Linked DNA regions of Homo sapiens: region 2 is linked to region 1. The links come from fine-mapping of genetic effects on gene expression. A gene starts in region 1. The other region holds a variant in brackets. All regions are shown on one strand. Distances are from middle to middle. Region 1 holds the start of CDKN1C (cyclin dependent kinase inhibitor 1C). Region 2 overlaps KCNQ1 (potassium voltage-gated channel subfamily Q member 1).

Evidence for each region. PIP is the estimated chance that this variant, and not a neighbour inherited with it, causes the effect. A credible set is the group of variants that fine-mapping cannot tell apart.
Region 2: its variant is the best candidate, but not a certain one, in a credible set for the expression of CDKN1C in whole blood (TOPMed, PIP 0.61).

What each region holds. Positions count from the first base shown.
Region 1 is chr11:2,884,381-2,887,272 of GRCh38, reverse strand. It overlaps CDKN1C (cyclin dependent kinase inhibitor 1C), which reads left to right and starts at 1,498. Exons shown (of 4, transcript NM_001122630.2): 1 at 1,498-1,639; 2 at 1,807-2,603. The coding sequence starts at 1,817. RefSeq lists enhancers at 1-836, 837-1,672, 1,673-2,508.
Region 2 is chr11:2,832,860-2,835,751 of GRCh38, reverse strand. All of the region lies in intron 15 of KCNQ1 (potassium voltage-gated channel subfamily Q member 1), which reads right to left. Among named protein-coding and RNA genes, the nearest start is that of KCNQ1-AS1, 27 kb to the left of the region's middle. RefSeq lists an enhancer at 1-783. The variant C/T (reference allele first, on the strand shown) is at 1,644.

The sequences.
Region 1 (2,892 bases):
CATCCAGTTCACCCCCCTCACTTCAGATCTCGCTTCCCTGAGACCCAGAAGACCCGCCCTGCTCCCCCAGCTGCAGCTGCACACTGCCACAGCATTCCATGGGGGTGGGGGTGTCTTGGGACTCAAAGGCAGGCTGGTTGGGGTTCAGGGGACCGCACCTTCCCTCCCTCCCAGAGGTCTCTCTGCTGGCTCACAGGCTCACCTGAGATAGGGGCTTAGATCTCATGGGCTGCTGGACCCTCCAACAGGTGTCTGACAGTCCCCATCCCGATCTGGGAGGCTCCTGGTTTGAGGAGGGGGCTCCCTGCCTCATGGTAGGTGGGCCAAAAGGGAGGCAGCAGGAAATAATGGTCTCTTTTGGTCTGGCCTGGCTGGGGTGAAGCACCGTGTGTGTGCGTGCGTGTGTGTGTGTGTGTGTGTGTGCGTGCGCGCACGACCGAGGTCTGTACCAGGAAGGGCTGCAGGCGGGGGAGGGGCATGGTCCTTCACAGCCCCTTCCCCTATGACCTCGGGCAGATCTTTCACTTTTACCCAGTACAACAGCTTCCAGCCAGCCTGGACAGGCAGATCCCGGGGCTGGAGTGGTCTGGCCCAAGGCTGAGAAGGGCTGGGACCCCCGACAGTGACATGATGGGCTCAGCCCCTGTTCCATCTACTGGGCAGGGTGGGCCTCCGCAGATAGCGGCTTCAGACTCCAGCTCCAGGGGGCTGGTGGGAGTCTCTCAAGGTGTCCCACACATGGTCCCTCGGGGAAAGAGTGGAGCTGACCCCTGTCCCCCCTCCCGACTCGAGGGCCTTAGGGCCAGCAGGTGTGTGAGGGCTCCAGGCGCGCGGAGCCCTCGAAGGGACACCAGCCCAGCAGCAGCAGGCCGCGCGGGGGCAGCCGAAGACCCCATCCGGCGCAGGCCAGGGCCGAGCTGGCAGCGGCGGGTCCAAGCCTCGTCAGCTGGCGCAGGAGGCCCACGGGCGAGCGCGGGACGGAGCTGGGCGCCGGGGTCCGGACCGGGCCGGGGTCGAGTTGGGCCTGGCCGGACACCGGACCCGCCAGGAGCCGGCCCCTGCCGCGCTGGGCTGAGGCCCCCGCCTGCAGACAAAGGAGCCGGCGGGGGGCGGGAGCCGGGGGGGTGGGGGAGTGTTGCAGGGGGGATGGGGCGAGGGGGCGGGCGTCGCGGTGTCACGTTACCGCCCGCAGCGCCCTTTAACTCCCGCCCCCGCCCCGCTCACCGCCCCCTTCCCCTGCTACAGCGCGCTCGCCCCGCGGCCGCCAATCAGCCGCGCGCCCCGGCCGCGCGCCCCGCCCCGCCCCCGGTGGGTGTGCGCGCGGCCAATGGGCGGTGCGCGGGGGCCGGGCCGCGGCGGGGCGGGGCAGCGGGGCGGCCGCCAATCGCCGTGGTGTTGTTGAAACTGAAAATACTACATTATGCTAATCGCGGCCGGGCCCGCGCGCACGGGGGTGGGGCCCGCGCGTATAAAGGGGGCGCAGGCGGGCTGGGCGTTCCACAGGCCAAGTGCGCTGTGCTCGAGGGGTGCCGGCCAGGCCTGAGCGAGCGAGCTAGCCAGCAGGCATCGAGGGGGCGCGGCTGCCGTCCGGACGAGACAGGCGAACCCGACGCAGAAGAGTCCACCACCGGACAGCCAGGTAGCCGCCGCGTCCCTCGCACACGCAGAGTCGGGCGGCGCGGGGTCTCCCTTGCGCCCGGCCTCCGCCCTCTCCTCCTCTCCTTTCCCCTTCTTCTCGCTGTCCTCTCCTCTCTCGCTGCCCGCGTTTGCGCAGCCCCGGGCCATGTCCGACGCGTCCCTCCGCAGCACATCCACGATGGAGCGTCTTGTCGCCCGTGGGACCTTCCCAGTACTAGTGCGCACCAGCGCCTGCCGCAGCCTCTTCGGGCCGGTGGACCACGAGGAGCTGAGCCGCGAGCTGCAGGCCCGCCTGGCCGAGCTGAACGCCGAGGACCAGAACCGCTGGGATTACGACTTCCAGCAGGACATGCCGCTGCGGGGCCCTGGACGCCTGCAGTGGACCGAAGTGGACAGCGACTCGGTGCCCGCGTTCTACCGCGAGACGGTGCAGGTGGGGCGCTGCCGCCTGCTGCTGGCGCCGCGGCCCGTCGCGGTCGCGGTGGCTGTCAGCCCGCCCCTCGAGCCGGCCGCTGAGTCCCTCGACGGCCTCGAGGAGGCGCCGGAGCAGCTGCCTAGTGTCCCGGTCCCGGCCCCGGCGTCCACCCCGCCCCCAGTCCCGGTCCTGGCTCCAGCCCCGGCCCCGGCTCCGGCTCCGGTCGCGGCTCCGGTCGCGGCTCCGGTCGCGGTCGCGGTCCTGGCCCCGGCCCCGGCCCCGGCTCCGGCTCCGGCTCCGGCCCCGGCTCCAGTCGCGGCCCCGGCCCCAGCCCCGGCCCCGGCCCCGGCCCCGGCCCCCGCCCCGGCCCCGGCCCCGGACGCGGCGCCTCAAGAGAGCGCCGAGCAGGGCGCGAACCAGGGGCAGCGCGGCCAGGAGCCTCTCGCTGACCAGCTGCACTCGGGGATTTCGGGACGTCCCGCGGCCGGCACCGCGGCCGCCAGCGCCAACGGCGCGGCGATCAAGAAGCTGTCCGGGCCTCTGATCTCCGGTGAGCCCCGCACGGCCCCGCCCCGGCCCGGCCCGGCCCCGCTTTGTCCGGCCGGCCGGTCCCCCCAGCCCTCGGGGGCCTCGCTGGGTTCCCGCCTCCTCCCGTGGCATTAAAGGGCCCGCAGCGCTCAGGGCGCGGCTGCGCCCTTACCCCCCTCCCCGCCCCGTTGTTGTGCCCTCCAGCGGCTTCGCGCGGGCGGGGTGGGAGGCTGAATCCCGGCCGCGACCCCCCGGGAGCGCAGTTTTCGCCCCCGGCCGCGGGAGCCCCTCCCCGGGCGCGGCCGGGCGCC
Region 2 (2,892 bases), 52 kb after region 1:
TAATTACTTAAGTCCCTTGCCAGGGCCCTCCCAGTACCCTTTCTAAAGACACCCCTGCCCCAGCATGCTGCAGGCTCCTGCTCCACTTTCCTCTCAGGCCCTCGTCGCTGTGGTGCTGCCTTTGTTTTCTGTCTCTGCCACGGCAGGGGGTCAGCTCCTTGGAGGTGGGGCTTCTGCCCTTGCTGTACCACTGCCTGGCACACAGTAGGTGCTCAATAAAGACTTGCAGGGTGAGCTGCCTGAAGAATAGTCACCAGAGGCCAGAAATGTCTAGAGCTCTGCCGGTAGGGTGACTGGCCGAGGAGCCTGGCCTGCATGTGTGCGTGTGTGTGTGTGTGTGTGTGTGTGTGTGTGAGTCAGGGTTTATATGCAGGTGTCTACAGGAGACATGCTGGGTTCTGTGCTGGGTGTGAGGAATATGGGAGCAGAACCCCAGGGAGGTGGCAGAGACTTGGGGGCCAAAGGGCTGGGGTGCAGGGGGGCAACAGCCAGGTGCCACTGGCCACCCCAGCCGCAGGGAGCCCTGCCCACCCTCCAGGTGCCTGGATGTCCAACCTCACTGCTATTCCCACCTCAAGCCAGGCCTGGAGATGGAGGCCCCATGACTCAGCCAGGGCCGGTTTGCAGCTGCGGCTGACCCAGACGGGCGGGCAGCCCCCAGCCCCCGGGCCTGCACCCAGGACAGGGCCGCCCTCCCTCCCTCCCCCGCTTCTGGCTCCTAGGACAGGATTCTCTGAATTCAGCTCCCCTGAGGCTGGGGCCAGGTTGGAGGCCAGGCCTGGGGGCCCTGGGCTGGGGTCCCAGATAGGGGCTGGGCGGCCAGGCTTGGAATCTGGAATCCAGCCCCATTCCTGGCATCTGCAGGAGCCTCGTGGGGAGGGAGACTTGGGATGGACTTCAACCAGCCAGGGCTGGATTCTTGCCCCGGAACCTGCATTCCTGGGGCAGCCAAGGGATCCTTCCCACTTCTGGGCCCAGCTTGGCCCTGCCTGGCATTCGAGGCCCATCTGGGGCTTGGGGGTGTCTCCCCAACTCTCAGACATAAGGACACCCTTCCAAGCTTGTTCCTTCACCTGGCGGGGCCCTGAGCCCCACACCCCTCCCCTGTCCTTTCTCCATCCGACATCAAGCGCCTCCCTGCCTCTGCTCGCACAGTCTCTGAGATGGGGAACTCAGCACCTCACAGGTGGGCCCAGCTCTGGTGCTGTCTGTGTTGGGGGAGCTGGGGCAGCCCCCAAAAGACCTTGGAGACAGACCCTCAGAGGCAGGAGCAGAGGCTGGCAGTGGATGCTGTGCCTGGAGGCCTTGAGGGCGAGGTGTGATGATGAGGCCCAGGCTGCAGGGCTCTTTCTGGCTCTCCAGCTCCGGAGAACAAGGGATTTCCTCCTGCTCTGCCCACCCTCCCCAGCCAGTGCATGCTCAGCCTCAGCACCGCACCTGGGCGCCCTCCATGATCTGCCCCACCTGGACACATGGCTCGAGGGGCACACTACCATGCCATACACCATGTCACGCACCTTGCCACTCCACATGCTACACAACCCAGCCCCAGCCCCAGCCATGCCATGTGCCACACCATGTGCCACACCACTCCCACCATGCCACCACCATGCCATGCACACAGCCACGCCAGGCACAGCAGG[C/T]GCTGAGCCCATCCTGCACGAATGCAGCAGTGTGTGTGTGTAAGGGGACCTAAGCCTCTGCCCATGTCCTCCCGGGAGCCAGCCCCTGGCTGCACTCCTTGTGGCTAAGTGGGGTTCTGCTGCCCCCCAGCCCCTGCTGACAGCCTGGGAAGGGGGTGAGGAGGTGGGGGAGCAGGCTGGGAGGGCAGGAAGTTGCTGGGGCTCCAGCCCCATCTGGACATATTTGGCAAGCCCCGCTCCCCGCCGCTCCTCAGCCTGTCGGAACGGCCCCTGGCGCTGGTGCTGGACACTCTGGCCTTCCCCCAGCTGCCTGTCCCACCTTCCCCACTGTTGTCTCGGTCCCGTCTCGGGGCACTTGCCCCAGTTCCTGCTGCTGGGCCCAGTGGACTGCACGGTCACAGCCAGGTGCAAACATGGGACCTGGTGTTTGCTCACCTCTCTGAACCTCCATTTTGCCTCTGCAAGACAGGGGCTGCAAATGGAGTGAAGCGGGGAAGCCTGCCCACCCCAGGAACCCAGCCTCTTGCCTCCCAGTGACACGGTTGCTGGCGGGGCAGCAGTGGGGATGCTCGGGGACCCCTGCCCTTGAGGCTGGCTCCCAGGTCCACGTGCCTGGGGCTGACTTGGGGCCTGACAGCTGCGCCCAGGTGCCCACCCTAAGGCTGAGACTCCCTCACATCTATGCAGTCTTCACAGAGGTCCCAAGGGGCTCTGGGATCCTATGAGGGGAGAAGCTTGGAGAGGGGTGGGGCATGTGGGCAGGTGGGGGGAGGACTCGGCTCCAGGGCACTGGCCCGGCTTGGCTGCCCTGACTCTGCCATTGTGTCCAGAAGTCCACAGGCCTCCCGTCCCTCAGGGAAGCAAGAAGGGGCTATGTCCTCTGCCCTGGCGCGTGGGCCCCTTGCGTGCAGGGGCTTCCACAGGGCCTCTAATTGCCTCGACTCCAGAGGCACACAGGCACCCCTACCCAGCATGTTCTCCCACACCCACAGCCTCCTAGCTGTGGGATAACCATGGACGATGCTGCCAACCTCTTATCCCCTGGTCTGGTGGGCAGTCCTTGGGCACCAGCCTGCCCTGAGCAGGGAACAGCAGCTGCATTGCCCACATCTGTCTCCCACTGGGAGGAGGCTAGTGTCCAGGTCACTCTGGGGGAGAGGGGAGGGACCAGGTCAAAGTGGGAGAGTGGAGTGAAGCCCCCTGAGCTGGGCATGGCTTCTGCCCCATGGAGCCCTGGCCAGGCCCTGTG